Linked DNA regions of Homo sapiens: region 2 is linked to region 1. Evidence: fine-mapped expression QTL. A gene starts in region 1. The other region holds a variant in brackets. All regions are shown on one strand. Distances are between the middles of the regions.

The links.
Region 2: its variant is fine-mapped to the expression of NLRP9 in tibial artery (GTEx, PIP above 0.99). The same link has a PIP of 0.9 or more in aorta and coronary artery.

What each region holds. Positions count from the first base shown.
Region 1 is chr19:55,736,849-55,739,763 of GRCh38, forward strand. NLRP9 (NLR family pyrin domain containing 9) reads right to left here and starts at 1,554. Exons shown (of 9, transcript NM_176820.4): 1 at 1,247-1,554. The coding sequence starts at 1,526. It also overlaps the pseudogene RN7SKP109.
Region 2 is chr19:55,704,551-55,707,465 of GRCh38, forward strand. It overlaps EPN1 (epsin 1), which reads left to right. Exons shown (of 11, transcript NM_001130072.2): 11 at 1-2,915. Among named protein-coding and RNA genes, the nearest start is that of EPN1, 31 kb to the left of the region's middle. The variant T/G (reference allele first, on the strand shown) is at 1,345.

The DNA of each region.
Region 1 (2,915 bases):
AAACAAAAAAAAAAACAAAAAACTAACACAGCAAGCAACTCCAAACCAAATAAAATACCCTCAAGCATGTGGGGATACGAAATAAGGTCTCAAATTAGAATTACCAACACAAAGAAGAAACATGAACAAAACAGAAGTAAACGTAACAGAAGTTGATGGAACTCAAAAGTAAAGGGAGAAGATAACAATCATCAGAAACAAATGCTAATTACTAGATACCTAATAGGGAATATATTTAGTTTTTCCTAAGTATCCCCCGAGAGGAGGGTGTAGACCCCATCAATGAGTCCAGCAGAACTGGTTCGGAGTCAGATCTGTCACTTTTGGAAAAGTCATGTAACACATGGGAACACTGTTTTGTCCAGTTTTCTCACTTGTAAACCTTTCCTGGGTTGTGATAAGAATGAAAAGACATTATGCAGAAAGAATGCTTCCAGGACGTGAGGACAACCTGGCTGTGATGTCTGTCACCCCATTGGTCGCCCCAGGGCTAATTCGGCTGATGTGGCCAGCTGGGTGGGTGTCCACTTCCTCCCTCACTGCTCCATATGCGTCCGTCCTGAAAGTCTCCCCTGGGTCAAAGACGATGACAACCTTTGCCCATAGAGGAAGGTCCTTCCATCGCGGGCAGAAGAGAAGCTGTGCTCCCCTACTAGAACCTCCAAACAAGCTCGCAAGAATGCTTCCTGTAGTACCCGGGACATACGCTGTCTGATTGTCTTAAGATTCTACCTACTCCTTGGTACATGTCTGGTCAAAAAGGACAGGCAGTTAGGCATGGTGGCTCACTCCTGTAATCACAGCACTTTGGGATGCCTAGGCAGGTGGATCACTTGAGCCTGGGAGTTCAAGACCAGCCTGAGCAACATGGCAAGACCCTTTCTCTAAAAAAAAAAAAAAAAAAAAAAAAAAGATAGGCAACTACCATACTAGAATTCCATCTCAGTAGACCTGGCAATGCAGACACTAACTGGCCACTCATCTCCTATAACAACGACTCCACTTGGGGTGGAAAAATGGGAAGACACTCCATAGGTGAACAGTTGGTATCAGGACGCCATCTGTCCCCAGTTCATCGCTGGCCCACATATGAACAGCCCTGGCCTGCAACTCTTCCTACCTTCAACTCTCACCTTGACCCACACACATTCTCATCTGATGGAGGGGGTGGCCACTCATTTAACAATGCTATCACCTTGTTCCCAGGCTTCCCCCATGGGTCCTCGCCCCATCATCCAGCACTTACTTCTCATCTCTTCCTGAGCCTTTGTCCAGAGATCTTTCCTATTGATCTGTAGAAACAGGTTCAGTGTTACCTCCCATGCCTGCTTTCCTGGGTAATGTTTGTCCAGCAGCTTTGCTACATCTTCTTTGGAGGCCTTCTTCAGCTCAGCCCAGGGGATTGGCTTGAGTTCAAATTTCTCCAAAGGTTGTTTGAGGAGCTCCTTAAATTTCCAAAACTCTTCCTTTCTGAGCTCCTTCAGATACCACAACAAGCCAAAATCCGAAAAAAAAGATTCTGCCATATCGCCCCAGGATTGTGAACTGAGGTGTCTCCAGAGGGAAAAGAAAGATCCTCAAAAATAAAGAATAAATGATACCTGGAGAAGAATGACATGATTACAGAGTTAAGCTTCAGCAGCTGAAAGCAGCTCAAAATTATTGATATCATCATGCGTAGCTTGCACCAAACATCATCTAGGGAAGAAGCTTCATCTTTTTCCAAACAAATGCATGTGAATGGTAGAGTTGACTGCCACTTATGTGTCTTGTTTTTGTCTGACATAAATGATGCTTCCAGGAACAAGTGTTTTTGTGTAGTTTGGTGTATATAAGCACACATTTCTCTAGATTTATAAATTATAGGTCAAACAGCAAACACAGGTCACCATGTTTGCTACATAACACTCAACGGTTTTCCCTTGTGTATATAATTACTGACATTCCTACCAGCATTCTATGAGTTTGTTTGCTCTGTAGACCTTCCCATCCTTAGTATAGTCTAATCCAATTTTGATAATGAAAAAATGAACGGATATTAAAATTACAGATGATCACATTCAGGAAGATGAAAATAAAGGAAGAGGACATAAAAGCAAATTTAAATTTTTTTTTATCGTTTAGTGGTATATGCCTTCTTTTTTTTTTTTTTTTTTGAGACAGAGTCTCGCTCTGATGCCCAGGCTGGAGTGCAGTAGCGCAATCTCGGCTCACTGCAAGCTCTGCCTCCCGGGTTCACGTCATTCTCCTGCCTCAGCCTCCTGAGTAGCTGGGACTACAGGTGCCTGCCACCACACCCGGCTAATTTTTTTGTATTTTTAGTAGAGATGGGGTTTTACTGTGTTCGCCAGGATGGTCTCGATCTCCTGACCTCGTGATCCACCCGCCTCGGCCTCCCAAAGTGCTGGGATTACAGGCATGAGCCACCGTGCCCGGCCGGTATATGCCTTCTTATTACAGTATATAAGGAAAAAGTTAGATTTACTATAGGTTAGCATCTGCAGACAACTCAGACAGAAACAGAGCAGTGAACGTTCCCAGTATTATAAACCCTTCAGATAATCATTGCAATTCAACAAAAGACAGGAAATGAAGTAGAAATATATGGTAGACAAAATAAGACAGGTGGCAAAAATAATACCAAATATATATAGATATGTATTTTGAGATAGAGTTTCACTCTTGTTGCCCAGACTAGAATGCAATGGTATGACCTCAGCTCACTGCAACCTCTGCCTCCCAGGTTCAAATGATTCTCCTGCCTCGTCCTCCCAAGTAGCTGGGATTACAGGCACCTGCCACCATGCCCGGCTAATTTTTTTTTTTTGTATTTTTAGTAGAGATGGGGTTTCACCATGTTGGCCAGGCTGGTCTCGAACTCCTGACCTCAGGTGATCCACCTGCCTCAGCCTCCC
Region 2 (2,915 bases), 32 kb before region 1:
GAGAAAATCCATTGACGTTCTATAGCGCTCCCAGCTGGCGGTACTTTGTTATGACAGCCCTAACATGAATGCAGCCATCCACACTGTCTGGGGGAAGGCACACACACCCCACAGCACCCTTGCTGTCTCACCCCGTATCGCAAAAGCTCACGCATGTGTCTCTCCCGAGTCCCTGGAGGGTCCTGCCACCTACATCTCTCTCCTTGGCCTGCCGCCTGTGATGCTCCTGGGCCCCCTGCTCCAGCACCGCTCCCTTCCTTCTGTAATACAGACAACAGAGACAGGAGATGGCCTGGCCCCACTTCATTTCTGTTCCCTGGGAAATAAGCATCGCAAGTGATCCGTAGAATGGTAGACATCATCCACTTCCCAAGCATCTCTGGCTGAATGCTGTTCTCATCCACTTCCCAAGCATCTCTGGCTGAATGCTGTTCTACACATGCACGTGGGAGGCACCAGGGAGCCCAGAAGAAATGAAAAGCCTGGGCAGACTCGCAGTTCTGCCACACAGTGAATGTGCTACTCAAGCCACTCAGCCTGGGCTGCAGAGGTTGGAAGCCTCACTGGCCTGAGGTTTCTGAGTAAGCTCTGACCCAATCATTGACTATTAAACTTCAGAGGTCCATGGAGACCTCTTAGGAGTCTTTGAAGGAACTTAGCATAGATACCGATAGCTGCTGACTGCAGGGAGATGGGGAGATATGTTTTGTAAACCTGTCCAGGCAACTTTTTTGCCTACGGAAACACACAAAAACGAAAACAAACCAATGAAAAAAACCTCTCAGAACGATACAGAATCCAGAGCCACTACAACACATTTCATGAAGTGGCGTGAGCCTGTAATTCCAGCAGTTTGGGAGGCCGGGGCGAATGGATGACTTGAGGTCAGGAGTTCGAGACCAGCCTGGCCAACATGACAAAATCACCATCTCTACTAAAAATACAAAAATTAGTCATGCATAGTGGCATGCACCTGTAGTCCCAGCTACTCGGGATGCTGAGATGGGAGAATCGTTTGAGCCCGGGAGGTGGAGGTTGCAGTGAGCCGAGATCGCACCATTGCACTCCAGCATGGACAACAGAGCAAGACCCTTTCTTAGAAAAAAGAAAAGTATCCCCGAACATTATCAGAGTCAAGTTAATAAAGGCCAAAGGTAGAGAAAATCTTGAAAGTATCGAGAAAATGACATGTCAATCATAAGGTCAGGTTCTTCAACAGTCATACTGACATTGTGGCTGGAATATTTGTTGTTGTGGGATATATATATATATATATATTTAGAGTGTTGTGGGATATATATATATATTTAGAGACAAGGTCTTGCTCTATCACTAAAGCTGCAT[T/G]GCAGTGTGTGATCATAGCTCACCATGGGATTCTTGATTTTCAGTGAGTATAAAGTGTAAGACAAAATAAGTCTTAGTTCAGGTATGCTGGATGGGAAGCCAGAGGTCTGCATAGCAGTTACAAAGAAGGCCTTATTATCTGGAAGAAAAGGGACCATAGAATGTCCATTGGTTGGGGAACAACCCAGCTTTAGTTTTTCCAGATTCTCTGCATGTGCAGGTTTATGAGACTGGAGAACTTTGATTTCTTCTTCCTCCTCCTCCTCTCTTTTCTTCTTCCTCTTCCTCCTTTTTCTCCTCCTTTCTTCCTTTATTTTTCTTTCTTCCTTTCCTCCTCTTTCTTCTCCTTTTTCCTCCTCTTTTCTTCCTTTCTTCTCTTTTTCTTCTTCTTTTTTTTTTTTTTTTAAAAGACCGTGTTTCGCTCTGTCACCCAGGCTGGAATGCAGTGGCGTACTGTTTTAGAAAAGTGAAAGAGGGCCGGGCGTGGTGGCTCATGTCTGAAATCCTAGCACTTTGGGAGGCTGAGGCGGGTGGATCACCTGAGGTTGGGAGTTCGAGACCAGCCTGGCCGACATGGCAAAACCCTGTCTCTACTAAAAATACAAAAATTAGCCGGGCATGATGGCAGATGCCTGTAATCTCAGCTCCTCAGTAGGCTAAGGCGGGAGAATCGCTTGAACCCAGAGGCAGAGGCTGCAGTGAGCCAAGATTGCAGCATTGCAGGAAAGAGAGAAAAAGGAGGGAAGGGGAAGGAAAAGGAAAGAAAGAAAAGAGGGGAAGGGAAGGGAGAGATTTAAAAAACAATAGTAAAGAGAGATTTAAAAAACAATAGTAAAGAGAGATTAAAAAAAAAAAGTAAATGGGCCAGGTGCGATGGCTTGTGCCTGTAATCCCAGCAGTTTGAGAGGCTGAAGTGGGAGGATCACTTGAAGCCAGGAGTACCAGACCAGCCTGGGAAACATAGTGAGACCCCGTCTATACTAAAAAATATTTAAATGGGCTGAGCGCGGTGGCTCAGGCCTGTAATCCCAGCACTTTGGGAGGCCGAGGCAGGCGGATTACCTCAGGTCAGGAGTTTGAGACCAGCCTGACCAACATGGCAAAACCCCATCTCTACTAAAAATACCAAAACAAAAACTAGCAGGGCATGGTGGCGCATGCCTGAAATCCCAGCTACTCAGGTGGCTGAGACAGGAGAATCACTTGAACCCAGGAGACGGAGGCTGCAGTGAGCCGAGATTGTGCCACTGCACTCCAGCCTGGGCGAGCAACAGAGTGAGGCTGTCTCTCAAAAAAAAAAAAAAAGGAACGGTAGTGTGCACCTGTGGTCCCAGCTACACAGGAGGCTGAGGCAGGAGCATCACTTGAACCCAGGAGTTCAAGGCTGCAGTGAGCTATGATGGCACCACTGCCCTCCAGACTGAGCCAAAAAGCAGACCCTGACTCTAAAACAAAAGAAAGAACAAATAACAAATGAAAATAAATACCCAAAAACCAGTCAAATGTGAAACTGGTGTCAGGGGTATGTTCTCCATGTTGAGCCCCTTCTGTGGAATATGACAGTGTCTCTA